Homo sapiens: one gene and its partner. The protein of the gene in region 2 binds, or shares a complex with, the protein of the main gene of each other region. Each region holds a gene or a part of one and is shown on either strand. Other genes may lie near its edges. The genes, in order: PMCH and MCHR2. A codon is read from its position in the direction of its gene.

Evidence for each region.
Region 1: the proteins of MCHR2 (region 2) and PMCH are in contact, whole or in part, in a cryo-EM structure (PDB 8WST), measured with the Homo sapiens proteins. Residues at the interface, in NP_001035269.1 of Homo sapiens: His82, Gln92, Trp93, Gly96, Gly97, Thr110, Asp113, Gln117, Ile175, Phe177, Val181, Ser183, Cys184, Ala185, Phe186, Leu188, Thr189, Ser190, Pro191, Val194, Tyr197, Thr198, Tyr267, Gln271, Asn274, Met277, Glu278, Gln279, Pro280, Phe284; in NP_002665.2 of Homo sapiens: Leu151 (codon at 1,850), Arg152 (codon at 1,847), Cys153 (codon at 1,844), Met154 (codon at 1,841), Leu155 (codon at 1,838), Gly156 (codon at 1,835), Arg157 (codon at 1,832), Val158 (codon at 1,829), Tyr159 (codon at 1,826), Arg160 (codon at 1,823), Pro161 (codon at 1,820), Cys162 (codon at 1,817), Trp163 (codon at 1,814).

What each region holds. Positions count from the first base shown.
Region 1 is NC_000012.12:102,194,850-102,209,799, forward strand, and holds PMCH (pro-MCH preproprotein), read right to left. Parts: upstream 2,985-14,950; 5' UTR 2,922-2,984; coding exon 2,673-2,921; intron 2,672-2,672; exon of another isoform or gene 2,323-2,671; coding exon 2,124-2,322; coding exon of another isoform or gene 2,116-2,123; exon of another isoform or gene 1,853-2,115; coding exon 1,803-1,852; 3' UTR 1,610-1,802; downstream 1-1,609. Other genes in the region: PARPBP (PCNA-interacting partner), read left to right, coding at 463-598, 1,102-1,442. UniProt on the Homo sapiens protein: MCH may act as a neurotransmitter or neuromodulator in a broad array of neuronal functions directed toward the regulation of goal-directed behavior, such as food intake, and general arousal. May also have a role in spermatocyte differentiation.
Region 2 is NC_000006.12:99,986,113-100,001,839, reverse strand, and holds the start of MCHR2 (melanin-concentrating hormone receptor 2), read left to right. Parts: upstream 1-7,616; 5' UTR 7,617-7,904; exon of another isoform or gene 7,905-8,076; intron 8,077-15,727. UniProt on the Homo sapiens protein: Receptor for melanin-concentrating hormone, coupled to G proteins that activate phosphoinositide hydrolysis.

The DNA of each region.
Region 1 (14,950 bases), on a different chromosome or scaffold from region 2:
TTAGCATTTCTTCCCTCCCTAATTTCTTGAATTCCATATGCTATTTTTTTTCCAAGAGTGTGTTCTTCTTAGGATGAAGAACTTGTATTTTTCTATGATTATGTATATCACCTGTATTGTTATTTTACTTACAATAAGACGCTCCAAAGCAGTGCTGACACAGGAACATGTAACAAAGCCCTGCGAAGAGTCTAAAATTGATTGTTTTGTAACTGTTACCAAAAAAAAAATCAAAAATATACATAAAGCTATTATTTTGGAAAAGAACAAAAATGCTAGCCATAACAATGAATGAGTTTGCAAACTATGAAATATAAAAGGTTAGAGAGAGGTTCTCAATGAGTAATAGAATTTCTAAGGGAAATTTTTATACCTTGATTACTATAGAGTGTGTGTCTATCTAGATGAAGAAATAAAATAATGAATAAATTTGCATATTTTCTTCTTTCTTTCTGTTACTAGATGAAGCAAACTTTAATTAGATCCCAATTTGCTTGTACTTATAAAGATGACTACATGATAAGCAAGGATAATTGGAATAATGTTAATTTAGCATCAAAGCCTTTGTGTGTTCTTTACATGGAAAATGACCTTTCTGGTAATTGACCTTATTTGTGCAATTAAATAACAATTTAATTCTAGTCTACTAATTAGTTTTAACTTAAGTAAAATTAGGTTATTTTTGCAAAGTACTATGAAATGTAAAGGGTAATATTTTTAAAGACCTCAGTTTATTTAAAAAGTTAAATCTAAGTACAAATTTATCGATAGGAATAGGACACAGTTTGATTTAACTAAATGTATTTAAGAAGTAATTTGTAGCATATGTTTAAGGATTAAATGTCATGCATTCAAACAAATATTTCTTAATAGGGCTGACAAGTTGATTACTGGCCAAAGCTAACTCAGAGGTGCTATGATAAAATGAAAAGTAATAGGATAGTAATGTAGCTATATTTGTCAATCATATTATTTATAGCATTATTTTACTTTAAAAATTTGAATATTCGTTAGCCATTTTTAAAGTTTATTGTAAAGTTCTCGTAAATATTAATACTCAATATCATGTAATTCCTTTCCCCTTTTTATCTTGCATAACAGAGGGTGTAAATCCATCTGTTGGAAGATCAACAATTGGAACGAGTTTTGGAAATGTTCATCTGGACAGAAGTAAAAATGAAAAAGTATCAAGAAAATCAACCAGTCAGACAGGAAATAAAAGCTCAAAAAGGAAACAGGTGGATTTGGATGGTGAAAATATTCTCTGTGATAATAGAAATGAACCACCTCAACATAAAAATGCTAAAATACCTAAGAAATCAAATGATTCACAGAATAGATTGTACGGCAAACTAGCTAAAGTAGCAAAAAGTAATAAATGTACTGCCAAGGACAAGTTGATTTCTGGCCAGGCAAAGTTAACTCAGTTTTTTAGACTATAAATTTGTGTCTTATATGCTTTAGGTTTATGTATCTATAAACCATTCACCAAAGACATGCTTAATTTTTAAGAGATCAAGGTGTAAATTATGATGATTTATTATTTTGGTCTACAGTGTATGTAAGGTTAGTATGTTAAGCATTGTTTAAAAATACTAGTAAGTCATAATTATGCAGAATTTTCACAAAGTTTAATGCACAGAGAAAGCATATCATTTCAGTTACTGATACATCTTAACACTACTTTCTTTTAAAACAGACATTTAACATACACAAGTTATAGTAGCAGTATGGGCTTCTCCTCCCATTGGCAATTAAATGCTTTTATTTTCTTCTGAAAAGATGATGTGGACCAACAGGTATCAGACTTGCCAACAAGGTCGGTAGACTCTTCCCAGCATACATCTGAGCACTGAAGGAAGAAGAAAGTTTAAATTGTTTAAAGGACTATAATTATCACACAAAATTTATTAAGAAAAAAAGAATGGATCTAGTATAACTAATTCTGAGTAAACCAAAATGATAATAATTAATTGTTGCTATTTAATCCCACATTTTTGGCAGGTGTAATTGAGCCATGGTCTTATTTGATTTTGTTATGATTGCATCCAAATTCACTTTAACTCAGAGTTCTGTTTAATGGTGGTAGGATGTAAGAATTGAATTTTGAAAAGACTACTCACTGTCAAAATCTCTCCTTCCTATAGGAAATTTAGCTGAGTTTTCTTCATCCCCAATTTCTCTCTTTTCTTGTGTTGATTCAGTATTCTGAACTCCATTCTCAGCTGGGAAAGCTACAGATCCTTTTAGTGCAAGATAAGGTTTTATAGCCAGATTCAGTGGCAGACCATGATTTAAGAAATTATGTTTGGAGCCTGTGTTCTGTAAAGAGAAGGTTGATTTGGTTTTTAGCTATCGTATTCGGAGTGGAACTATAATACAATTGTATAATATTCTTGTTGATCAATTCAAAGTTACTCTGCACTGTTTTTGACTTTTTAAAAATACCTTAGATGCAAATTTATAGGAGAAAAAACACTTTCAGATAAGAGGTGTTTGCTGGGATGGAAGAACTACCTGGCATGTAAGAAATATCGTCAGTCGTCCTAATGCATATTGTGACTGTTTGCATATACTTCTGTTTATAAAAGTATCAGTTTTACTTTTCAGAGGATTTGTAAGAATCATTTAAATTTTCATTGAAATAAACGACAAGTCACATTGCCACTTACCTTTGAAACTTTATTTTCCTCTTCGTTCATGAAACTGCTCTCATCATTTTTATATTGTTCCAGGGAAGGAGCAATAACTGATTTTTCTGCAGTGTCTTCCTTCTGAAAGCCTTTCCCCAACCTGAATGTATTAAATACCATGTCATCATCTAAATTTCTTATGGACTTGGATGCTGAAAGTAAAATACCTTGAGAAAACAAAGAAAAAGTTAGTATTAATATATAGGAAGAGAGATTCATTTTTGCCATTCTTAGTTTGATGTTTGCATACAGTCAAACAAGAAAGAAAATGAAAAATTTCTCTGTCAGCCTGCTTGGTAAACGATTCTGTATCTTTATATATTTTCTAGCTTGAATAGAAAGCACTTCAAAGAATTATACTTTTCATCATTTTAGAAATGACTCATTAGATTGAGGCTAACCTTTATGCAGCTGCTAATACCTACATTGTTTTGGTTTTAGTGACACATTGTTTATTTTGAGTGTGAATTTTCTCAGAATCTGACTAAGATCCTTGGTAGAATGCTTTCTGTTGAGTAGATTATAGTCTCTTGAAAATGGGTTGTTATTAAGGAAGACCACAGGACATCAGGCTCTCTCTATATTATTGTTTCCTTTTGTGTATTTTCTGATTAAGTAAAGATATTAAAACTCAAGTTATTTCACTCAAGGATGATAAGGATAAAGTTTTATTTCCTTTTAATCCTGATTAAACTGAAATAATCCTCAAAAGAGACTTTCTTTTATAAATACTTGATATAGTTTTTGGTGATTAAAGTACATATGCCTGTCAGTGTGAACAAAAAGCCATTCATGCTATATCAAAAATTGACCTGTCAGGTGTATTTTATCTCTGCATTTACAAAAGGATAATATGTACAAATATTTATTAATGAATTTAGAAATTAATGAATTAGTCCATGAAAAGAATATTTATGTGCCCATAAACATTACTTTTGGATGATGAGTTTATGTTGTATGACTTTTAATTAAACATTTCAGAGTTAATTTCTAATTTTGACCCCAATGAATAAGATAATACATTCTTTTATATGTCTTCTGGTACATATATGTAAGAATTTTTCTAGAGTATATTTCTCAGTATGGAATTACTGGATCATGGAGTATGTATATGTTCAGCTTTACTAATGCCAAAATGTTTTCCAACATAGTTGTAAGCGATTTGTGCCCTCGATAAGCAGGGTATGAGAATTTCCATTGTTCCATGTCCTAGCTGACTCTTGTGTCTCATTGTCCTTTTAATTTGTATTTTCCTAATTACCAAAGAGGTTAAGTGTCTTCCCATATGTTTCTGAGCCATTTATGTTTCCTCTTATGTTAAATGCTTTTTTTTTTTTTCTTTTTTGGCTTTGTCCATTTTTCTATTGGGTTGTCTTTTTCTAATTTATTTATGGGAGTTCTTTATATATTCTGGATATTAATTGTTAGTTATATATGTTTCAATTATTTTCGCTCAGTTTGTGACATATTTTCAACCCCTCTGGTGTCTTTTGGTGAACCAAACTGATTAATTTTAATGTTTAAATATTTTTCTTTTTTCTTTATGGCAACTACTTTTAATGTGTTGTTTTTTTTTAGAAATCCTTCTCAATCCTTAGATTATTAACGTGTTTTCATATATTTTCTTCTAAAAGTTTAAATATTTTGACTTTCATGTTTAGGTTTGTAATTCATCTGTAATTTTGTGTATGATATAAGATAGAGATGTAATTTTACTTTTTCCAATGTCCTTATATATTTCTTGAAGAAGTCATCCTGTCCCCACTAATCTGCAGTGCCATCTCTACAGTATATCAGATTTCTATATATGTGTGGGCTCCTTTCAGAACGTTCTATTCCACAGCCAAATCTACAGTATTAATATAACTTTAAAATAATTTTTAATATCTGGTCAAATTTCCCAGCCCTCTACTTACCCACATGTTTTTCTTTTACAGCAGTTCCTTAGCTATTCTTAGTCATTTCTTTTCCATATAAATCTTAAAATCAGCTTTTCAAGTTCCGTAAGAACACTTGACAGGATATTAAGGTTCTAGTTAGGTATCCCTTATCTGAAATGCTTAGGACCAGAAGTATTTTTGGATTTGGGATATTTTTTTCAGAATTTGGAACATTTGCATTATATCAGTTAAGTATCCCAAAATCTGAAATCTGAAATGCTTCAATGAATATATATTTTTTAGCATATTGTTAATGCTTAACAAGTTTCAGATTTTGGAGCATTTTTGGATTTTGGCTTTTCAGATTTGGGATGCTCAACTTATAATCACATTGGTTTTATAGATTTATAGATTAATTTTGGAGAAGAACTGATATCCTGAAGGTAATTTATTATCTATGAGCATGACATTTTTCTGTATTTGCTTAGATCTTCTTTAATCTTTTTTTCTTCTTTAATCTTTTAATGACATTTTCTTTTCTTCATAAAGGTCTTGCATACCTTTGTTGAGAGAATTATAATTCTTTATAATTTAATTGAATTTCTTATTTTTGGTTATTATAAATTGTATTTTGAAATGATCTTTCTAACATTATTGCTGGTATGTGCATGTGCATTTGGCTTGTGCATAGTAATTTGATAACAGAAAAAAACTTTCTAAACTCTTATTTTTTTTTCTTTTTAATTGTTTATAAATGTATAGATTCTTTGGGATTTTGTATGAAGACAATTGATATAAATGATAAAATAATGGCATTTTATCTCTTTCTCCTAACTTCATCTATATTGTGTATACATGTCTTTGTGTCTGTTCATGTGTTCATACACACTGGCCAAAGCCTCCAGTAAATACTGAAAATGGAGAGAAGAGATATCTTTACAGTGTTACTGATTTTACAGATAATGATTTTAATGCTTCACCACTGAGCGTAATGTTTGCTGTAGGTTTCTTATAGATACTTGCTATAAAGTACAGGATGTTCTCTTTTGTTTCTGGCTTACTAATAGTTTTTATCATGAATTGTTGTTGAATATTATTGAATGCTTTTTTTGCATATATTGAGATGACCAGATCATTTTCTCCTTCAGTCTTTGGAAATATTAACAGATTTTTCTAATGTTAAACTAACCATGTGTTCATGAAGAAACCTTTAAATTATCGGATTCAATTTGGCAATATTTGATTTAGTACATTTTACATTTATTATGAGTAAGATTGATTTGTAATTTTCCTTTTTTATATTGACTTTGGTTTGATATTAAGTTTGTACCAATTTCTTACATTGAGGGCAAGATTTATCCTTCTTTCTTTTCTCTCTTGTTAGACTTTGGGTTTGGTGTTTTCTTGGTAGGATTTTTGTTGTTAAGAATTGATGTACTTTCTTCAGTAGCTGTAGTAACATTTAGCTTCTCTGTTTCTTTTTTAGTTTGTTTTAGGAATTTACATTATTGTATAATTTGTCCATTTCACTTAAGTACTTTTTATCTGAGGTAGACTTAACTGCTGATTTTCTCGGGGACTATTAAGATCTTTCTCAGTAAATGTTTTGTGATTATAATTATAAACAAAGGACTCTGACATCCCTTGACTTCTTTGATCTTAGAGCTTCCTTATCTTTTTAATGTTGTTAGTTGTGCCCTACTTTGTTTCCCTTGGTTTGAACCTGGTTTGGATGTGCCTGTTTAATCTATAAAAGTCCTTGTTAGGCTGGGCACGGTGGCTCACGCCTGTAACCCCAGCACCATGGGAGGCCGAGGTGGGTGGATCACCTGAGGTCAGGAGTTTGTGACCAGCCTGGCCAACATGGTGAAACCCCATCTCTACTAAAAATATAAAAATTAGCTGGGCATGGTGGTGGGTGCCTGTAATTCCAGCTACTGGAGAGGCTGAGGCAGGAGAATTGCTTGAACCCAGGAGACGGAGGTTGCAGTGAACCAAACATGGTGCCATTGCACTCCAGCCCAGGCGACAGAGCGAGACTCTGTCTGGAAAAAAAAAAAAAAAAAAAAAAAAAAGTCCTTGTTAATGGAAATCTTTTTTCTTAGATGCTGTTGTGGGAGGGTAATAAATATTAATAATTATGTACTTTGTTTTAAATTTCCACTGGATGAATTGGCTTGGCTGATCTTCACTCAAAATTGGGACCAAATCCAAATGATTTTGACGGTTTAGAGAAGTTAATGTTTTATTTTGTTTAAACTGTCATAGCCTCTGAGCATTATGAGGTTTTGCCATAACCATTTAATTATGGAGATAGTTTCCAATTTTTTTAATGATAACTTTTTTTAAAAAAAACTTTGGTTACTGTGATGTGCAGTGGAGCATAGTAGACTTCTTTTTCATTGATGCTGAAAATGGTATGTCCCCAAGTAGTAGAAGGGAACTTTGGAGAAGTAAAACTATTGCCAGATGGGCTTGGGTGGTTCAGTAAACCTTACAAAGGCAAAAGGCTTATATAAAATATGATCTTCATTTTCTGTTGAACTACTGCTAACACTGTATATTTGCAAGTCACTTTATTAAATTTCTCTTTGTTCCAATTAACACATCTTTGCTATGTGTCACCAGTAAATTAAATGGCAATTGGCCATTGGCTTACTGAGAATCATCAATTTCTTAGTGGCTAATTGTATGAGTGTAAAAACAAGATTGCTCACTTATATAAATTATCAAAAGATATAAGAAAACTTAAAATTCCTTCTCAGATTTCTATAGTAAACAACCCATACACTTTCACCTAGCGTTTACCATTAACGTTTTACTTCTATCCCTTCATCCCTTTATTAATCATCTTATTCTTTTAATGCATTTCAAAGGATATTGCATATATCAGTATGCTTTTCATGAAATACTTCAACATACGTATCATTAACTGGAATTTAATAGTTGTTTACAGCTTTTTTTTGAAGTAAAATTTATGGAAAGTAAAATGCATAAACTATAAGTGCATATTTGCTAATTTTTGACAAATGTGTTTGCTTATGAAACCCAAAGTCCTTTCAAGATACAAGACATTGCCATCACCCCAGAAAGTTATGTCTTACCTTGTTAGAGTTTACATGTACCACCATTTTCCCCACTCCCACCCGTCATTCCAACTCTGCTCTTAGACAATCACTGTTCTAATTTCTTCTGCTGTGAATTAGTTTTGCCTATTTTGGAAATATACAGTATGACGTCTTTTATGGAAGGCCTCTTTCACTCAGCATGTTTGACATTCATCTTTAATGTTGTAAGAAGCAGTAGTTCCTTCCTTTTTTATTACCGTTGTATAAATATACTACAATTGACTTGTCTCTTTTCCTGTTAATGGACTCTTGAATTGTATCCAGTTTTTGGCTATTACGAATAACACTATCTACATTCTTGCACAAGTCTTTTTGTGGACATGTGTTTTTATTTCTCTTGGGTAAATATATAGGAATGGAATTGCTAGGATATAAGATAGATGTATCTTTAATTTTGTAAGAAATTGTTAGATTATTTTCCAAAGTGATTGTACCATTTTATACTTCAACAAAGACTGTATTAGAGCTTTGGTTGCTCCACATCCTCACCAGCATTTGATGTTGTCAGTCTTAATCTTAGCCATTCTGGTAGATGAGTAGTGATATCGTGTTTTAATTACATTTTCCTAATAACTAATGATGTTGAGCACTTTTTCATGTGCTTGTTAGCTATTCATATATTTTCTTTTGTGAAGTGTCTGTTTAGATCTTTTGTTCATTTTGTTGGGCGAGGGATGTTTCTTTTTATTACTGAGTTGTAAGAGTTATATATATTACATATATATTCCTCCCACCCCAGAAATTCCCCCCAACCCCAGAATTTTCTTCTCTTTATCTATGTTTCCAACTGGAGTGGGCCACATGAGACATTCCTGTATAAGATTGGAGAGCAGAAGTGAAGCAGATGTCACGTACGGTTCACACATGATGTCGCTTATCTGCTGGCTCATGTCGTTGGCTCTGCAGCAGTCAGACCTGCGACTGCTCCACTTTCGCTGGATCCACTTTCAGTTTCTCTGACTCCTGGGACACATGTGTGCAGTTCTGTGACAAAGGAGACTAGCTGTCCTGAGGACATCCATACCATTGAGGTCAGATGCAGCAAGATATGATATGAGTTTCAGTCTATCCTCATGGGTTTCAGCTCATGCTGGTGAATTCCAGTATGTTCTTCTTCTTCCCTACTTTACATCCATCTTTCCTTCCTGGCAGCCTGCCCTGTGGACTCCAGCATTAGATGGAATGATCTGCTTAATATTGCTTAATTAGCTTTCACAATTGCATGAGACAGATTTATGTAACAAATTGTGTATATATTTCTGTATATGTGAATATGTATGTGTGTTGTTCTGCTTCTGTGATTGACTTCTGACGGACACTTCCCAACTCTTTTTATGAGTCTAGCATAAATTTGGTACCAAGACCTGATAATGCTATTACAAGAAGGGAAAATTATAGGCCAATATTTCTAATGAACATGGATGTAAAAATCCTAAACAAAATGTTATCAAATAGAATCCAGTTATGAAAAAGGTAAAATTTCATGACCAGGTGAGGTTTATTTCAGGAATGTAAAATTGAACTTTCAGAAAAAAATTGGTAAAATTCACCACTGTAAATGAATACAGGAGACAAAAACACGATCATCTCAAATATAGAAAAGCACAATGATTGGCTGTGCTGAATGCTACTGGTTGAGTAAGATGAGAACTGAGAATTTATCTTTGATTTGGCTATGTGATAGTCATTGCTGACCTTAATGAAGCAGTTTCAATGACACTGGTAGAGATTCAACCTTGATAGGAGAGAATTTAATAAGAATGGAAAGAGAACAAATGGAAACAGTGAATATAAATAGTATGTCACCGATTTACACTGAAGAATGCAGAAAAATTAGATTGTAGATGGAAGAGAGTTGGCTATTGCTATTTAAAGATGGAAGATATTGTAGCATGATAAGAAGTGGCTATGCTGAATTTGTGGGACTCAAGTAACAAAAGGATTTACATGCTGTAAACAGTATGGAATAAAATAGACATTCATCCTCCTTCCCAACTCTTAAGTATGTGTGGTGGTAATGGGATCAGTGAAGTGGAGAACGCTATAAGGGTATTTGTTATTCAGAAGGTATAGTACAAAGATTGGAGAGAGAAGAGAGAAGAAACACAGTGCTGTTTAGAGATGAAAGTGTGGGAGGATAGATATCTAGAGGGGCTCATATCTGGATGGAGAGCAAGGGTAAGAGAGAACAAGGTGTGGTAATTTGGCTAGCAAGGGAATTAGTCCTGACACTCCCTTAGAAGGTGTGTGTGTGTGTGTGTGTGTGTGTGTGTGTGTGTGTGGAGTTGATGTAGTTGGCAGGGAAGGGTAGCTCCTGGTAGGCGTTTAGGCCACTCAGAATTCAGCAATAAAATTAGGAGGTTATCCTTCTGAGACAGTTTGAATTTGGTTGGTAAGTTGACCTCCAGTTTTTTTTTCTTTCTTTGAGAAGAGTCAACTTGAGTTTTTTTGTTTGTTTGTTTTTAATTTGAAGGCTCAGAAGAGAGATCCAAGGCTTCCAGCATGTGGGCTTGTAGAGAGTACTTAGAGACGCGAGATATGGGGGCCAGCTGAGAGTGGTGAAGATGGTTAAGCTCTTGTTTTGCTCCAAGAATTGGAGTGGGTAAGGTATCTTCTCACCATGCTCAATGCAGTTGGTTTGTGAGATAGTGGGGTGGGAGACACAGGGAGAGTTTATGATGCTCCACTGTAATTAGTCCAGTAACTGTGAGACCAGTTGAGTAGGAACGTGGATATCCTCAAGCTTTGTTCCACTGTTACAGCTGGTAAACATGGATGAATTGATTTAAATATTTATTTTGCAACAATGTGGATTTGAATTATGGATATAGTTTCCTCTTTTTGGTTAATTATATGCACATTTGAATTCATCTCTGTCTATGAGTACTAGTGGACTAGCTGCTTCCCTGGATCTCGTTACTGGATGGTATGTTGCTCTTAGTGTCATCCAAACAGAATTATTTTAAAAGTGAAATGAAGAAACCAGTTGTAGTGAATTACACATCACCAATTTTTAGAGCTGTAGACTAATATCTTGAAAATTGCCTTAACATCTTTTTGCCACAAATCAAGATATAAGTAACATTAAGAGTTATGTAAGGCCAGGCGTGGTGGCTCACACCTGTAATCCCAGCACTTTGGGAGGCTGAAGAGGATGGATCATCTGAGGTCAGGAGTTAAAGACCAACCTGGCCAATATGGTGAAACCCCGTCTCTACTAAAAGTAAAAAAAACAAAATTAGCCGGCTGTGGTGGCATGTGCCTGTAGTCCCAGCTACTCGGGAGGCTGAGGCACAAGAATCTCTTGAATGCGGACAGTGGAGGTTGCAGTGAGCTGAGAATGCACCACTGCACTCTAGCCTGGGCGACAGAGCAAGATTCCATCTCAATTAAAAAAAAAAAAAGTTATGTGAACATGCTTGAAATGATGTTCATGGCTAAATTTTTCAGTTACCTTGTAAAGATGATTCTTGGATATTGTTTTGATTCTGAGTACTTTTGGAGTCATCTGATAGTATGCTTCGAGAATAACAATCTGATGATAGCTTTCAACATTGGGTTACCAACAAAGCTTGTTATTTTGTATACATTGATTCATAATTTCAGGTTTCTTCACCATTATGGTAAGTAGTGTATTGAGTCTTCATTCTAACACATGTTAGGAATTTATGTTTGTACTCATGGATGTCTTTAACCCTCAGACATTTCTACTTATATTGAGAACTCTAGACTGAAAACATTTTGAAATGTAGTGGTTTTACTATGTAGGAGGAACATGTGATTCATTTGTTCTGCTTCATTTTCTTCTGTTTGTGATAGAGATTGGATCAGATGAAAGTGTCTTGATAATGATATACATGCCATTCTTTTCATTCTATGTATTTGTAGTCCTTTTTTGCCATCATAACTTTGTTTATGATATTCCCTGCTCTTAAAATACCCTCATCTTGTCCCTCCACCTATCTATATCTAAAATATCCTTCAAGACCTTCCTTTTGCAGCTTTCTCTGAGTACTACAGCCAAATCCTCTTGTCTGAACTCCAACATGTGTAATACATTATCATCCTGTTTAAATATAATTATTTCTTATATTTATTAATTTATCAAGGCCCTAAATATCTGCATAAGCTTGCCTTCATGGTTTCACTTTTTCATTGTTCTCTATATTCATGCCATGTAACTTTGGCATGCCTTCCCACTGTGGGTGGGGTAACCTGCCCACTGTTTGACTCTGGTTTCAGGCATGTGATTTGCTTTAACTAATGAGATATTATCAGATATCATGCAAGCAGAGGCTTGAAATGGTCTTGCACATTGGGAATTCCCTCTTGAGCCTCTGCCACCACCATGAAAACATTCCCATGCTAGCCTGCTGGAGAGAGCCACATGGAGGAGAGCCATGCTACCCTAACTGCCATAGCTGAGGCTATCCTCGATCAGCACACATCCATTCAAGCACCAGACACTGGAGAAAGTCCACTTGAGGTCAGTAGAGCTGCCTAGCAGATGCCCAACTGACCCAAAAAGCATAAGACATAAACATTTATTGTTGTATACCCTCTGAAGTTTTGCATGTGTTACACCATATTACTATAGTAATAGATAATTGATACAAATGTCCTACATGGCCTGGACCATGCATTCCTTGCTAAATTTATTTCTTGCTACTCTGTCCCTCTTTCGTCACTCTCTAGTGATATTGGCCTTCTGTTTTTATGATATGCCAAGATCATTTCTGACGCAAGACTTTTTCCCTGCTATTCTCTTTGTCAGGAGCATCTTTCTCCTGTTATTTATCTGAGCATTTATCACTCATTATTGTGATGCTCAGCTCAAATATCATGGTTTCTGAGAGTGCTTCCTTGACCCTATGAGCTAAAGGAGCCCCCTTCCCACTCATTCTTTCCCTATTCCTTTCACTCCTTTATTTTCTTCACTGTGCTTCTGTCTAAAATTATCTTACTTGTTTACATGCTTATTGTCCATTTCCTCTAATGCCAGTGAGGGAGATGGTATCAAGAACAGAGTATCAAGAACAGAGTCTGGCACATAGTAGCCTTTCAATAAACATGTAATAAATGTATGAATTATTTTTTCATTAAGAGAACAGATGGTAGAAACTATGATAGGTTCTAGAATATGATAGAGTATTTACTTATTACCTAGGTCTGCTGTGACAAATTACCACAAACTTGATGGCTTAAGGCAACAAAAGCCCAAAATCAATGCGTGGACAGGACTGTGTTTCCTCCAGAGACTCTAGGGGAGAGCCCTTCCTTGCCTCTTCCAGCTTCTGGTGACTGTTGGCATTCACTGCCTTGTGGTAGCATCCTCTGCTCTGTCTTCAATGACCTTCTCCTCTTTGTGTCTGTTCCTAATATTCCTCTGCCTCTCTCTTATAAGGATTCATGTGATGGCATTTAGGGCCCACCAGGATTATCTCCTCATCTCAAGATTCTTAGTCACATCTGCCAAGACTCTTTTAGGGGTAACATTCAAAATGAATAAAGAAAACTACAGGACAATATGCCTGATGAACACAGATGCAAACCTCCTCAACGTAATACTAGCAAACCAAATACAGCAGCACATAAAAAATTGCTTCACCATGATCAAGTAAGTTTCATTTCTGAGATGCAGGTTGGCTCAACATATGAAAATCAATAAATATGATTCACCACATATGCAGAATTAAGAAGAAAAACCATATGATCATCTCAGTAGACACAGGAAAAGCTTTCAGTAAAATCCAACATCCCTTCATGATAAAAACCCTCAAAAAACTAGGCATTGAAGATACATACCTCAAAAAATAAGCGCCATCTCTGACAAACCTACAGACAACATCATACTGAATGGACAATAACTGGAATCATTCCCCTTGAGATTGGAATAAGACAAGGATGCCCACTCTCACCACTCCTGTTCAAAATAGTACTGGAAGTCCTTGCCAGAGCAATCAGGCAAGAGAAAGAAATAAAAGGCATGCGAATAGGAGAAAAAGTCGAACTATCTTCACTGATGATATAACTCGATACTTAGGAAACTAAAGACTCTGCCAAAAGGCTCCTGAAACTCATAAGCGCTTCAGTAAAGTATGAGGATACAAAATTAACATACAGAAGTTTGTAGCATTTCTATACACCAATAACATTCAAGCTGAAAGCTAAATCAAGAATGCAATTCCATTTACAATACACATGGACACACACACACGCCTAGGATACAAATAACCAAAGAGGTAAAAGATCTCCCCAAGGAGAACTACAAAACACTGCTGAAAGAAATCCCAGATGGAAACAAACAAATAGAAAACTATTCTACGCTCACAGATTGGAAGAATCAATATCATTAAAATAGTCATACTGTCCAAAGCGATCTACAAGTCCAATGCTATTCCTATCAAGCTATCAATATCATTTTTCACAAAACTGGAAAAGACTATTCTAAAATTTATATGGAACAACAACAACAGAAAGCCCAAATAGCCAAAGCAATCCTAAACAAAAAAACAAAGCTGGAAGCATCAAATTACCTGACTTCAAACTATACTATAAGGCTACAGTAAACAAAACAGCATGGCACTGGTGCAAAAACAGAAACACATAGACCAGTGGAACAGAACAGAGAACCCAGAAATAAAGCTGCACACCTACAGCCACCTGACCTTCATCAAAGTTGACAAAAATAGTCAATGGGGAAATGACTCCCTATTCTATAAATGGTTCTGGGATAGCTGGCTAGTCACATTGCAAAAGAATGAAACCAGACCTCTATATTTCACCATATACAAAAATTAACCCAAGAGGGATTAAAGTGTAAGACCACAAATTATAAGAATTCTAGAAGAAAACCTAGGAAACATCTTTCTGGAGATTGGTCATAGGAGAGAACGTATTACTAAGTCCTCAAAAGCAATTGCAACAAAACCAAAAATTGATAAGTGGGACCTGCATAAACTAAAGAGCTTCTGCACAGCAAAATAAACTATCAACAGAATAAAAAGACAACCTACAGAATGAGAGAAAATATTCACAAACTATGCATCCAACAAAGGTCTAACATCTAGAATATATAAGAAACAAACAGTTGAACAAGCAAAAAACAAATAGCCCCATTAAAAAATGGAGAAAATACATGAAGAGACACTTCTCAAAAGAAGACATACAAGCAGCCAACAAACATTTAAAAATGTTCAGCATCACTAGAGAAATGCAAATCAAAACCACAATGAGATGCCTTCTTATA
Region 2 (15,727 bases):
CACTTATAAAAACAGAGACTCCAAACATTGAAAAACAGAAAAAGTAAGCATATTTGATGATACCCTTTCTATATACAGACCTGAGTCTTCAGATCCTTGCAAATTTCTCAACGGGGAAGGACATTGCAGCATGGCAGACCACATGGATATACACGGGGAAGCATCATGAGCATGGTCTGTCCATTGCCTTTTGCCTGTGTCTTGTGTAATGGAGCCATTTTTACTAAATACACGAGGACACTATGTACCTTTGAAATACATACTTGAAAGACAAAAAGGTGAAATTGGTCAGGATTGAGAAGCAAAGAGTAAACCAGTGGACCTGGTCCAATATCTCCTTGACTCTACTGTGGATCTTCATTAAAATTAGGAAAAAAAATGGTGATTGGGAGATGAATAGCTACCTTCATTTACAAAACAAATTCCACAACTATTAATATTTATTGAGTACTTACCATGGGCCAGGTAAGTACTTCCTATATAAGGTAACATCCATAGTGCTTACCATGTTCTAAGTGATGGAGACACAGTAATAAACAAAAGAGGCCAAAGTCCCTGCCCTTGTAGAGCTGACATTCCAGTAGACTGAGGTAGATATGATTACCCCTGCACCACAGATGAAGAAGCTGAAGCTCAGAAATGTAGCAAGTAATTGACCGAATGAGGTATTAGGCACTGGTGTGTTCTACAACAAAATCTGTGGTTGTTATTTTTATGCTAGGAGCAAGGAGGTGTAATCTCTGACCCTTTGTTACACCTGAGAACTGTGCCATAATGATCATTACAGAAGGCTTTCAGACATACACAATATCGTTGGCACCTGAAATCTTTCTTTAAACTTACCTTATGAGAGTCCGTTTTGCTAAGTGTCTCCACATTCTTCTGTGACTTTTTTTAAAATTATACTCTTTAGCTGCTGATGAGGTGGGCACAGCGGCCGTTGGCAGCTGCTGCTTTGGGTTGCTTTGTCAATCTCTGCCCCGGTCTGATGTTTTCTACAGGGAGATGCCTTGGATCCAGGTTCAGGGATTAAATAAACTTGTCAGCTGAAGATGAAAAAAAAAATTATACTCTTTATTACATTATATTGAAATTAACTTGTGTATGTCTGTCTCCCTCATTGAATTGTGGGCTCCCTAGAGCAGAACCATGTCTTATTTATCTTTATAACCAAATCAAGTTCAGGCACTGGCAAGAGTAGGAACCAGTGGTACAGAATTTGCAAACACTAGCATCTTTGAAATGCCCCATTGACTAGCAGTTTCTGCCCACCTCAAACCCATTGCTGTATCCTGATCAGTTCCTGACAAATTCTTGTTGGCTTGAACTTGTTTGAGCTTTAGTCTGTATAGGGGGAATGGAACTGCCAATGGAAAGAGAGATAGACTACGAAATCTCACTTTTCAAGTGGATATCTTTTCTTCTGTGAGTATAATACCTCTAAATAGCCTGAAGGACAGAGCTCTCTGCTACCACTTATGATCACATAGTGCTTTGCATTGGATAAATTATTTTTACATTAATCACATTTGTTGCCTTATGAGGTGGGTAGGGCAAGTTTTACTTCCTCATTTTATCCATAATGAAGTTGAGGCTCAAAAACATTAAATGACTTCCCTCAAAGCACACAACTTACACAAGGGGCCTTTAGACTTGATTCCAATCCATACCTAGACCCATTACATAGATCTGTCTTCCCTACTGTACTGCTACTATGAATTTTATCAATTCCACTATAAACATGTTTTATAATCTGGAATTTGTCAAATACAGTATGCCTTTGTTATTAGATAGTGGAGCTATTTTTACTCAATACACAAGGACACAATGTATCTTTGAAATAAAGAGATGAAATTCACCAAGATTGAGAAACAGTAAACCAGTGAGTTCTCTTCAATTTCCCTTTGGATTTATGGTGGTGCTACACTAAAACTGAGTAAATTAAATCATTCTCTGAATATCTATTCCAGTAAAATGAAGGTCATTTATAAATTATTTATAAATCATTATAATTCAAAAATAATTCAAAAAACAAATGTAAATATTAAATGCAGGCATTTAAACATTTCACTCTCAAAGAATGAATGCATGGGAGGTAAAGGATATGAGGCTAATTTGATGGGGACATGAAATGGTAAAACCTTAGAATTCTGAGCTACTGCCCCCCAAGAAAGATATTAATGTGCACACAGGAAATTTCATGGCACCCACATTTCTGCTCTGTTTTCAGCTGTTATCTCAAAGACAAAGGGAGCAGACTATAACACTCCCATCCCTTTCCCACAGGGTGAGCAGGACTAATAGGTGGCTGCCCCGTTAATCCATTACACTGGCATAAGATATAACTAATAGTCCCACCAGAACAGTAGGCATTAATTGGGATTGTCCCAGATAAACTGAGATATATGGTAACCCTTGTAATAAGAGCATGCATTTCCCAGAGCATTTGGGGAGGTAATTATCCCTATAAACTCTGAAGCCAAAGCGAAACTTGTGCAAATTAATTGAGACTGAAAACCAGCCCTGGTATTTCTACCTTAGCCCAAGAAGCACTGGAGACATAGCAGAGGGTTACGGAACCTGATGCAGCAGGAGAAATACAGAGTGGATTAAGCCAAAGACAGTTCATTTAAATTTGTTTCCTCAAAGTTTCTCATAATTCCTAAGGATGGAGTTGGATATTAACATCCACTTTCTCTATTTATATTATACATAGTTTATTATCTATAACTAGGCTTAGGAAAACTGTTTAGTAGAGTATGTAGTTCTCATTCCAAATATTAAAGGCAGTAGTTCACAGTGAATCGTGGTGATTGTCTCTCTTAGAACCCAAGGTAAAGCACCCTTCATGTTTTTTCAAAGAATAAAAACTAGGCTGTATACCTCAACTCACTAACACATCACAATTCTGCTAGCCAACATGAGCAAACTCATAAAAATGACTTACTTTAAGAATACTCAATTAACATGTCTTACTTCTATCTTAAGAATGCATATCATACTTTCATTTCATTTGCACTGTAACTATTCATGTGTTTATTTTCACCACAAGATTTGAAGGTCCTCATTGGCAGGGATGATATCTTGTTCATCTTTGTACCCCTAGTATCTGGAATAATTCTCCAAGCATTTTATTATTGGAAATAAATGTCTTTTAAAAGTACCACTTATAAAATGAAAGATTTTTAAAATGAAAGAATTTTACTAACGCTTTAGTTAATAGATAGCACCTTACCATAGACCAGCCAGCTAGGGGCAAATATAGTGAGAAGAAAGAAGTCCACTTAGAAGAAGGAAGAAAAGTATAAAAGGTCAACTGATTTTTCACTTTGTTTTAAGACATTCCAGGTCATAATGTTTTATGCTTACTGAGACAGCTTATATGATAAGCTATGACCATTCTTCAAGAAGTTGGAAAGAAATAAATTCTTGTACAAACATCACTGCCAATGGTGTTGAACATGAGCACCTGTGTTTGAAATGAAAGCACAGGCCAAGGCCCCTTAGGGAATATAAACAGATATCAACAATGCATCATAGTTACCAAATTAAATGAAAAAGGAGGTGTTTTCTATATGTTTCCTGAAACCCATGTGTTTTCTTTTGTGCTTGAAAGCAGTCCCAAGCCTTGGCATTGTGACTAAGCTTGAAAAAGAATTCTCCTGAAAGTGCTCCCCATTTCTCAAAAATTAAGAGAAAAAGAGATCAGCCAGTATTTTAGGTTATTCATTCTCATTTTTAACACCAACATAGCTGCTAAGTAATTTTAATAGCAAATATTAGTCATGTTATTTGAAAAAAAGAATTTAATTAAAATTGATCAATATAATTCATTGGTCATTTACTTAAAAAATGAATGTTCTTTATACTGATTATAAAATCATTCTGAAATTTGGCTAGCACCAGAAGTGGAAAATAATTCTTACTCATTTAGAAATTTAGAGCCATACCAGACAAGTCACTGATGTGAAATTCAGCAGCCATGAGAAGGTAAATGGGGATTTACTAGTAAGTAAACTTTATGAATCTGATTGATTGGTAAGGCTTGAAAATCATTGTCAGTTGTTCTAAGAGTTCATCCACGTTTCTTAATAGCAAGTTTAGGACTTAGGCAAACTGCTCTTCTTTGTTTTTTTTTTTTTAATCTAAAGTGTATATTTTATATAATATTATTATAATATAAAGGTAAAAAATGAAATGAGTTTGGGAAGTAATGAAATAATGCAGTCCTTCTCAGAGCCTTTAATATATTAATGTGGGTTATGACTCTGAGAAGAGGGAGTTATATGTGTCCCAAACTCTTTTGACTATTATATTAGTTATCTACAGCCACAATAATTCCAGATGGCAAACCACACCAAAATTCAGTGTCTCAGAACAATCTTCATGTATTCTCACAGAGCTGAAGTTTGACTGGAACACTTCTGCTTCAAGCAGCAGGCCTGGGAATTTGTGTTTTCTATGCTTCTCTCATCCTCCTTGGCCTAGCAGGCTAGCCAGGACATGTTCTTCTTGGACAATGCCAGAGGTACAAAAGAGGCAGTGAAAATGCACTAAGTTTCTTAAGTCCTACTCCTAAAATTGTCATACTGTGTCTGTAATCCATATTCAACTGGACAAAGCAAGTCACATAGCCAAGCCCAAAGTCAGGGAGTGATGAAATATGCTCCATCCATGGTGAGGCCATTGCAAGGAGTGGATCCAAGGAGGGGTTAAAGAGCTAGGACCAACAATTGTCTCACAACAAAACTCTTTGTTTATGGATCATCTCATGGAACTAGTGCTCCACAGAACACACTTTTGGAAACACTGCAATATCTCACTGCTTTTTATGCAATGCTTATGTTAGTGGGCACAAAATGACATCTGACTAACTTTCTGAGAATTTCCTAATTCAGGCTAATTTCCTGAGATGCTGCAGCCTGAGAGACAATTTAAAATATTATAATCTAAATGGAACCCACTACTAGATTCCTAGCAGAAATTCTTCTTGTTAATAGGTCTTTAAAATCCCTTCTGTTGTGAAAACTCAATGAAAATTCAGCTTATAGAGTCAATATGGACACAGCGGGTTCAGTTTAGAGAGAGATCATTTTCCTAGAGAGCCTCAGTCAGGATTCTGCAAAGGATTTTGGAGGGAATCAGATGCTTTGATAGGAGTGGATGATTAAGACTAAGTTCTCAGAGACTGTGCTTCGAGGAAGTGCAGAGCCAAAGACCAAGCTGGGTAGCAGATGATTGCAGAGACAAGTAATATCCCAGCCCAGGCCAGTGAGGAGCTCAAGAACAGCCTGGGTCCTCAGAAGAAAGCCATGCCAAGTCAGCAGAGAGATGTTCCTGAACAATCCCTTAATGAGAAGGAATAGAGATCAGGACCTGCTGCGGACACTCTGCAGTCCATGGTATATACACGTTTGGAACACAATAAGCCTCATTCTCATCAGCATGAGGGGTCAGTCATTGCACCAATCTCTTTTATTTTTATAAAACCAGAATTAATGAGACTCACCAAAAATCCTTGAACCAAATGAAAGTTTTTCTGATAAGCATAGTCAGAAGTCTGTAGCCATAGCAGGACAACACCAGGTCAGCCGGAGCTCTGCCCACAAATCCACCTCCCAGCACATAAATTGCCAGTAACCTGAAGAGCTTTGTCTGACAAACTTCCCAGTTTCCAGCTGAGAAAAAAAAGGCAGGGACTTTACAGGGGTGGGGTTTTAACTGGGCATTCTGGCTCTCCTACTGCTATCTAAAGAATGTTACCTCATCAGAAAGCTCAAGGTCCAGGGTGAGAATTAGGTGGGATTCTATTTCTGGTTCAGCCTCTGTTTCACTGTCTATGGTTTACTTTAACTTTTAACCTCAGTTTCTTTATTAGTAAAATGGGATAACACCCATCTTGTGTACCTTCCAATTATTATAAAAATAATGTAATGATACCTTTTAAAGTATGCATAAAAAGTGGCACCAAAATGTAAGGTAAGGCCACATATCCTCCATTGACACCAATAGAAATTGTCAAACTTAAGCAAGGATGCAATTAAGCCTCATATGCTAATATTTCCCTAAATAGTGACGTCTAGCACAGGCTTTTTAGCCACCAATGCTCCATAAAACACAATACAATATATTGGGCTAGAAAAAAAAAGTATTCTTCACTTTTCAATTTAGCAACAACAACAAAATGAGATTTATTCATCCTTCATTTAGAGTACACAACTAGATAGAATTCGTCAACATCATCATCCTCATCATTATCAATCACTGGAACAAAGAATTGAAGTAGCAAAAATTGGCATTGCCAATATTCCTGTCTTTTTTAAAATGGATTGCCTACAAATGAGAAATTCAAGACAAGCCACTCTGAGTTTTCTTTGAAACGACTTAACATTTGGTCAGGGATAGGAAAGTTGAACAGGAAAATGTACATCAAAATTTTAACTTGGAAAAAAACATAAGGTGTATAAACTTATAGTGGACTGAATTTTTATATTATTAGAGAACTAGAAAAGGCTTTTCCACAAGGGTATTGTAGAGGGCGTTTAGATAATCAGCCTAATAAATGGGTCAAGTGTTTCTTCTTGTTTTTCTTTCCTAAGAGATGCTTTGAAATCTCCCACTTTGAAATCCAAATTCTCTTTAAATTTAATCTCCCATCCTCATATCTCCTTGATTTTTCTGAGAGATTTTAGAGATGATGTCTTTTTGCACAAACACTAACTCTAAGGCGACTTCCAGTTCTGAAATGTATAATCATTGACTCTACACTTGCTTTTAAAAATTCTGATCTGTTGAATTTTGAAATTTTAACCAATTTCACTAACCTTTCAAGTTTTTCTCATTTTCCTAACTTAATGTGAAATACAGGACATTTTGCCATGCCACTCTGACTACTCATCTTATAGATGAAGGAAGGATTCTGAAAGGTGCTCTAATGACTATAATTATCATAGGGACCACATATTGAGCACTAACTACATGGCAGGCCTGATTTGAGGGCTTTTGCATATGTCAAGCCAGTGAAGCCTCTTAGCATCCCTGGGAGGGCAGTTTTACAATTCTGGTAGTACCAAATGAGCAACTGAGGATGAGAAACATTAAAGAACCTGCCCGAGGTCATATGCCTAACAGTAAATGATAAAGCTGAGGTGGAATGCGGGGCGGGCTGCCTGTCTCCAAAATCGTATGAGGCTCCCTTGGGTGGAAAGTGATCCAACTCCAGCTTCGTCCTTGTCACCTTATTTGCTAAGTAGCTACTAAGGCCAGCAGATTTGATCAGGGTGCAAGCATGAAGCTAAAGATCATTATAAAGCAGTTGTACTGGGTGGATTAAAAGTTCGTGAAAACAAAACAAGTTCCTTGGTGGTATTATGGGTTTCTTCTTTCCTCTCTCCTTTCCCCTTTCCCTTCCTTTAAACCTTTGGTACATCAATAAACACTTGTTCATATAAAATGGAGGTCGAGTTTCTATTACTGCTTAGCTGAAAACACCTACAAATGTTCACAGGAACTTTAGTGACTACCAGTCTAGATAAGCACTTGAAAATAAGAAAGAACAAGCTCCGCGAGAGCAGAGATGCCTTCAGATTTTATTCGCGAAGGCACCCCACGCTCCTAGAAAAGAGCACGACGCACCCGATGCTCGGATTGGATGAAGTGGCAAAGGTAACCCCGCTGGTTCGGGCGTTTGGCTGTTCCTGTGCCTGGACCCCCGCTTTGGAAATGGAGGTGGGGCTGGCTCCCAACCTGTCTCAGAGACCCTCGCACTCCTCCCCCACCTTCCGTCAGCTGGGACCCGCTGAGAGCCGTTTTTGGTCACGCGCGCTTAGCGGATAGACCTGCAGTCCCGCAGAGAGGAAGGGCGCCCGGGCTGTCCGCCGCGCGGGGAGGACGCGAGCACCCAGGTGACGTCCCGCGGGCTGCCGCGCGAGGGCCGGGCTCTGGCGTGGGCGCGCCCCAGGGCCCGTGGGCTGCGCGCCCGGGAAGGTCTGGCGCCTGGTCCACCAGTCGCCCCTCCCCGGGGCTGGCTCGCCGGTAGTGTCTGATTGCTGGGGGATCCCCCTCCATCCCCAGAAGGTACAAAGTTTGGCTCTGTGGAGGCACCTACGAGACGGAGCGGGGCGGGTGGGTGGCCGGCTGGTTTCACACTCGGCAAAGAAAATGGAAACACAGGTGGGAAAAGAAAAAGGGAGTGGCTTTCCGGGAAGCAGCGGCCCCGACCGAGACCGCTGGAGCGCGCCGGGCTAGTTCATCCCGGCTCTCCATGGGGACTAAAGAGGCTGAACTGAAGTGGCGAAGGCGAGGAGGCGATCACTGGCTTGTTTGCTAAGAGTTCGGGAAGGCTTTTTTGAACTAGAAAAGACAAATTCAGTTCTTCCTCCAGGTAGATCCCCGTGTCCCCTGTACGCGCCTCCGGACGGCCTTCTGTGAAGCCCCCATTCCCACTTAGTTAACTTAGTTAATATTATTCCTCTGTCACAGGACTCCTGCACGGTCAGGTCATCTGAACTCCTCAGTGGCCCTAGGGAAGTTAGTTAGCGGCTGTCAGAGAACTGGGGAAAGTAGGCAGGTGGTAGCCTAGGCCCTTTGCAACTCAGCTGGGGCTTCTGACAGCCTTTGAAAAATTCTTTCTAAAAATGTGCTTCTTGTATTTTTTAATGAGGCTTTGCCCCAAAGCCTAATATCTTTGTTTGAGGTGGAATCTTCTTATTAAAATGGCCCTGAAGCTACCACTAAAGAATCAGGCATGAACACAAAATCTTCTGGATTTGAGGAATGCGCAGTTCTAATTTCATAGAACTTAGCTCAGCGCAAATGGGGAGGCAATCTGTTTTCAATGAATGTTTTCTGACTTCTTAATAATGCATTTTTCTACTTAAATAATAACCTGTTTGTTAGTATAACTTAGTGGGTAGAGATGGGGGGGTGGGGATGCTGACTGGCTGGAAATGACTGGATTGGGTTGGTAACCCATTATTTGTGTTTCATTTGGATCAGGCATATGTTTAATGTCACAATTGAATTGGCCTTTTGCAGAGCAGACATGCCCTCACTTACTGTCTTATGGCTATGACAAGATAATTACAAGGGCAATGTTATTCGACTCTTAGCCTAACACAGACTATTAGACTGCACAAAGCATTCCAATTACAAGAAAAAAGTTTTTCAAGCCTGGGGAATAAAGTACCACCAATGTACAGGCCACAGAATGTTTCTGAAATATTAATGTAGTTAGTTAAACGGAGATTGAATAGGGAAGGAAAAGCCACCAGGCACTGTAAAGAGGAGCCAGGAACAATCCTACGGGTCCAAGATGCTGTGAGAGAACCAATTTCATTTTTAGTGTCAGCCTGGCTCTCCTCAAAAACTAGAAATAGATTTTGAGGGGAGGTCTGTTGTGTATACTGCTAAGTCCAGTGTCTATTTTGAGAGGCAAGCCTGTAGATTTAACCCAAGTTGTGGGCTAAATGCATAAGAGGCAGCAATTATCCTACCAGACCCCAAATTCCCCAGCCTAGCACTTTAGTCCTAGAGTCAGGTGTGCGGGAGGGAGCCTCCCCCTTCACAGGACCTTTGGATGCCCATTAGAACTATGGCTCAGGACACTGTCTAGTCAGAGGTCCTAAATCCCTGCAAGGGACAGTCACAGCTCCCACTCCACAAGGGATGGAAAATGTCCCTGTGCCCTGAAGATGCCGGGATGCCTCTGCCTTCCGCAGTGACACCCCCTCACCCAACATGACTCCTCTTCCTTCAACCCAGCTGGAAGAAACCCAAGCTATCACTTATTCAGCCTCCAATTTACTCATCTCCAATCCCTTATGCATTTATTTTTAACATTCTGATTCTCAGAAATGAAATGAAATATATACAGGTGGGGAAATTAGAGCAAAGCTGGAAATGAGAAGAAGAACCTTCTTCATGCCTCAGGGCTGAAGAAAAGAAAAACACTTTTGTCAAGAGCCTGCTCTGTTTTAGGCAATGTTCGCATGCCTCATTTCTTTTTTCTTTTCTTTTTTTTTTTTTTTTTTGAGACGGAGTCTCACTCTGTCACCCAGGTTGGAGTGCAGTGTCGCGCGGTCTCTGCTCACTGCAAGCTCCGCCTCCCGGGTTCTCGCCATTCTCCTGCCTCAGCCTGCAGAGTAGCTGGGACTACAGGCGCCCACCACCATGCCCAGCTAATTTTTTGTATTTTTAGTAGAGACTGGGTTTCACCATGTTGCTCAGGATGGTCTCGATCTCCTGACCTCCTGATCCACCTGCCTCGGCCTCCCAAAGTGCTGGGATTAACAGGCGTGAGCCACCGCGCCCCGGCCTCAGATGCTTCATTTCATTAAATCCTCACGATAACTATGTAGAGAGTATTATTCTCACCTCACCTATGGGGAAACTGAGGCTCAGACAGGTTGGTGACTACCTAAAGTCACACTGCTAAAAATGACAGAGCCAAGATTAGGTCCAAATTTATCAAAGTCTTCTAGGAAGGCCTGTATGCTTTGCTGGTGAGGGCTGTCAGGAAAAGCCCAAGCAGCTCTGTCCTCCAGCCCCATCTGTCTCCCAGCTTCCCTGAGGAGGATGCACTGAGGCTAAATCTTCCAGAAGCTGTGCCTGGAGAGCATGTATTCACCGCTAGGGTCTCCTGTGGAGGTCCTGGGCCCCATAGGCGGCTCTGCTCCCCTCTTTTCCCCACTCTTTATCTCCATGCCCGCACCTTCTCACTCCTCTGACCCCAAACTGTTCGATGCTACAATTTCAGAACCATTGGCATATGCCCTTTCTCTCCCTGGGGTTACCACCCTTTCACCACATGCTTGGGTTTCTTCTTTCTGTCCCATCCCAACATTATTGGGAATCTCATAAAGACCCCTCCAAATAAAGCAGGAGATGCATATCTAAGGACATACTAGATGTGGCTCCAAGGTCTGAAGAACCGAGGGCCTGGAGCTTCCAAGCAGCTGATACCCTGATCATCAGGGTGGGAAGGAGGAGAGGTGGATACTGAGGCCTTGGGCAGGGTCCAGGATTGGGTCTCCTCTGTCTTGGTGAAGGGCAGGAAGATAAGAAAAAAAATGTAGAGAGAGACAGAGAGGAGACAGAATTATGTAAATGGCTTTTATCCAGGGAAAAGTTTATGATTATAGAAAAGTTTTTAAAAGTTAGATTGATTGTGTAAAATTAATGCTGATGAAATGACAGTCTTTTGTAAATTTCTTATGACTTACAGCTAATTGCCATGCAGCTCAGTAACAATTGTGTATTTCATTAAATACAGTTCCAAATAACTTTACCGTACATTTTACTTAATTAACATACATTTTTAAATCTTTCTATACTCTCAGGACTAATAAAGTTTCTCTTGAATACTAGCTTCTGGCATGATTATCTGATCATCATTGAAGTAAATGAATACACACACACACATACAGGGTAAATGAATACACACACACACATACAGGGTAAATAGTGTGTTTATCCTATGACTCTAACATTAAGAGAGACAGATAGAAACCACTTGTTTTATGAGAACAAGTTTTATCTTTGGGATTTGTATTAAGCATGTAAAATATTGGCAAAGCTTTTGCTATGCTGAACTCAAGTCTGACACATTTAGTAGCTCATTACTCCAATTTTAATGTAAGGTTGCAAAACACTGAAATCTCATCACCTGGGTCCCACCTTGTTCTAAATATACCTGACATCCCAAACCTTCTAAATAATTGAGCTAATTCATTTACAATGCTCTGCTCACTTTCATTAAGATGGAATTTAGTTTTTTTTTTGTTTTTTAAAGCCAATGAACTTGCAAGTTTACTTGGTTGAAAATGCCTTTTAATCTTAGAAATGTAAAAAGATTATATATTGCTACTTAAAAAAATCTAGGTGAATTTTTTCTCCAACTAAAATTCTTCGGAAATTTAAAAGAAGCTGCTCTCTTTGAGGGAGATTATTTCACGGAGCACATATAAAAACATTTTTTCAAATAAAAATGTTATAAAATTGTGTACTATTAAGGCATTTCATTGCATAAATTCTGCCTAAAATATTTTATATTTTCAAAAAGTGGAAGGTGAGTACAGTTTGTTGTTTACAGAGAGCCTCTGTATCAGAGACTTATGTAATGTTCTTGAAATATGTCTTGATTCTTTCAAGCAGCAGTGATGGCTTATTAAGCAAAGTCTATGTAGCTCTTCAGGAGCAGTTTTGGACCCTAAAGAGAGAGGAAACATTTCAGGGGGACCATTGTTCCCATCGTCTTCTCAGGGTAGAGGTCAAAGGTCAGCACATAGTTTTAGAGCCTGACAAAACTGGGTTCAATTTTTGGCCCTACCACTCACTTACAGAGGAACCTGAGCAATATCCTCACCCTCTTAGCCTCAGTATTCTCTTTGGCAAAATGAAGATAATAGTAATTTTACCTTTGATCTGACTGTGAACTTTAAATGAGGTAATGTACATAAGGTACTTAACACAGTATCTGGCACATTACAAACATTCTATAAATCTTGCTTAAAATTGGTACTTTACCTCTTTATCTTGTTTTTTATGTCTTCCTTCATGAAAATCTAGGCAATAATTTTTTTTGAATTTGATACAGGGTCATGCTCTGTCGCCCAGGCTAGAGTGCACTTACACAGTCTTAGCACATTGTAACCTCAAACTCCTGGGCTCAAATGATCCTTCTGGTAGGTAGTAATTTTAAACCTGTGGTGTATTTCATATGATCTTAGACCCTCTTTCAGCCATTGGAAGTGCTTGTTCTTAACCTGTGTTTAATATTTATTTTTCTCATAGGAGTCATAAGTGTTTTCATAAGTATGACTATGTACATGCATGTGGGTAAATATCGATTTAGCTCATGGAGACATTCAGGCTGGTCTCTTAATTGACTCATAACGGCCTTGAGAAGCTAACATTAGTCATAAATAAATACTACCTGATGGCCATTCTGGAAGAGAAACCCAGTATGCCATTCATTATATGGAAAAAGTTATATGCCTGCTGGTAGCAACTTGTGCCCAATAACAATCAACTATTAGAAGATGCACGTAAAAAAGATGGAGTGATGTGTCTTCTAATCCTCTATAGTATTTAAGAATGTTCAAAAGTGAGAGGCAGAGGGTAAAAGGAAGGTCTTTCTGTTCTATTTCTACCTATGAGAAATGTTGTTGATTGATTATCTCGTTTTTCCTTGCCTTGAGTTTGGGTGGCTCTGAGTTTCAGGCAAGTGTGTGTCCATTTCTAGCCCTGTGGGTGGGGGGATGAATTGAGATTATTTTAGACCAATTACTGTAATTTCACTCCTCCTACCAATGCAATGATTGGTTTGGCAAAGAGCATGTGACACAATTCCAGCCATTGATACTTGTGGGCCAGTGTGCAAAAGAGGCTGCTGGGAAAGGACTGCACTTTCTTTAAAATGTCCACAAAGAAGGGATGGTCCTTTCTGGCTTTTATTGTGCTTACATGAGGATGAGGACTAGCTGCTGTAATCATCTGGTATCCCTGTGGGGACCATCCTTGGAAAAGATTTGTATACTGAGGATAGCTGCAGTGGAAAAGAAGGAAAAGACCTGGACTCTGATGTCACCATTAGGCCACTGAAATAAGCAATCTTGAAAGTACCACCCTGTCTTCCCCTGTGAAAGTCTACCCTATGGACTTCACTGTTATGTTTAAGCTATTTAGGGCTGGGTCTTCTGAAACTGACAGTAGGAGACAGCCCAAATGATTTACACACCAGCCATAGAGAACCAAATCAGAAAACTCTTGCAATGAATCCATCCCTTGGGACATCAAATGAGTTAAATATTCTGCTGAAGTCTATGGCTGCCTTAGTTCCAGAGATGCAAATAATCCCTAATGATTTTTAACTTAGCCTCCTGTTTTAAAGCCTTTTTGAAAAAATGATTAACCCTCTATAGACTTGTTAGTCTCTTGTTTCCTTTTCTTTTCTTTCAATATTGGCCTGCCAATCTTATCAATAAAAAATAACCTTTTGTGCCCCCATGAAAAATTTTAAAACAGTGTTTATTTTGGGGTGCTAATGAAGTGACTTCAGTCACTTTTATATGTTTATCCATTTATTTCAATTTTTATTGTTTTTTAACTCTTAATTTCTTATATTTTGCTTACTTTTTCTGTGTGCTGTTTTGATCTCTTTTGCTTTCAGTGTAGTTAAAGCATATGTCTGTATGTGTGTGTATGCAGACTTTCAGAAGAAGCATAATGTAGTGGAAAAAGCATGGAATGTTGTGTCAAACTTTGGTTTAAATCCTGACTCTGTTATCTAATTTTTGTATAGTTTTTGACAAATTCCTTAACCCAAAGCAAAAAGAATGGCAGCGAGCATGGAATGTATTTAATTGTAGAACTAATCCTAAAGCAAGGGTGGGGATTTGGATGGCATACTATATGCTGTGAAAAAATTTAATTACATACCTATCCAAAACTGGAAGAGGAAGAGGGAAAGAAGGTGGAAGGTAGAGTAAATTCACTTATGGCCTCGTGTAATATATCTGAGTCAAAGGATATATTATTCAACCTGACAAAACAAGTATTTAAAGTATAAGGATTAGCCGGGTGCAGTGGCATGTGCCTGTAATCCCAGCTACTTGGGAGGTTGAGGCAGGAGAATCGCTTGAACCCAGGAGGCAGAGGTTGCAGTGAGCCGAGATCACACCGCTGCACTCCACCCTGGGCAGCAGAGCAAGACTCTGTCTCAAAAAATAAATAAATAAATAAATAAATACAACACAACACAACAAACACAATACAATAGAGTATAAGAACATTAAAATGTACAAAGCTAAAACTAAAAATATAATTTGTTGACCAAAATTGAGCAGTGGAGGGCCAGAAGAAAAAAGCAAGGAAGGGGAAATATGCCAATGTTATCATTTCCTTTTTTATATTTTTATATACTTAAGGGTCCATGTATATATATTATACTTATGGATATATATACATGTATATTATACATGTATATATATTATATACTTAGGGGTCCATGTATATACTTAAGGGTCCATGTATATAATATATCCATGTGTTACATGGATATATTTCATAGTGGTGAAGTCTGGGGCTATTAGTGTACCTATCACCCAAATAGGATATATTGTACCCTATAGGAATTATTCCATCCCTCACCCGCCTCCCACCTTCCCACCTTTTGGAATCTCCGTGTCTATTATTCCTCTCTGTATGTCCACATGTACCCATTGTTTAGCTCCCACTTATAAGTGAGAATATGTGGTTTTTGACTTTCTGTTTCAAGTCATTTCAATTAGAATAATGGCCTCCAGTTCCATCTATGTTGCCATAAAAGACATTATTTCATTATTTTTTATGACTGAGTAGGATTCCATAGTATACATATATACCACATTTTCTTTATCTGCTCATCAGTTGATGGACACTTAGGTTGACTGCATGACTTTGCTAATGTAAACAGCATTAGATAAACATACAAGTGTAGGAGTCTTTTTGATACATGATTTCTTTTTTAGGGGTAGATACCCAGTGATGAGATGACTATATCAAAGCGTAGTTCTTTTTTTACTTCCTTGAGAAATCTTCGTACTGTTTTCTGTAAAGTTGTACTAATTTACATTTCCACTAACAATGTAAAAGTATTCCTTTTCTCTGCATCCTTCCCAATATCTGTTGATTTTTGACTTTTTAATAATATTCATTCTGGCTGGTATAAGTGGTATCTCATTATGGT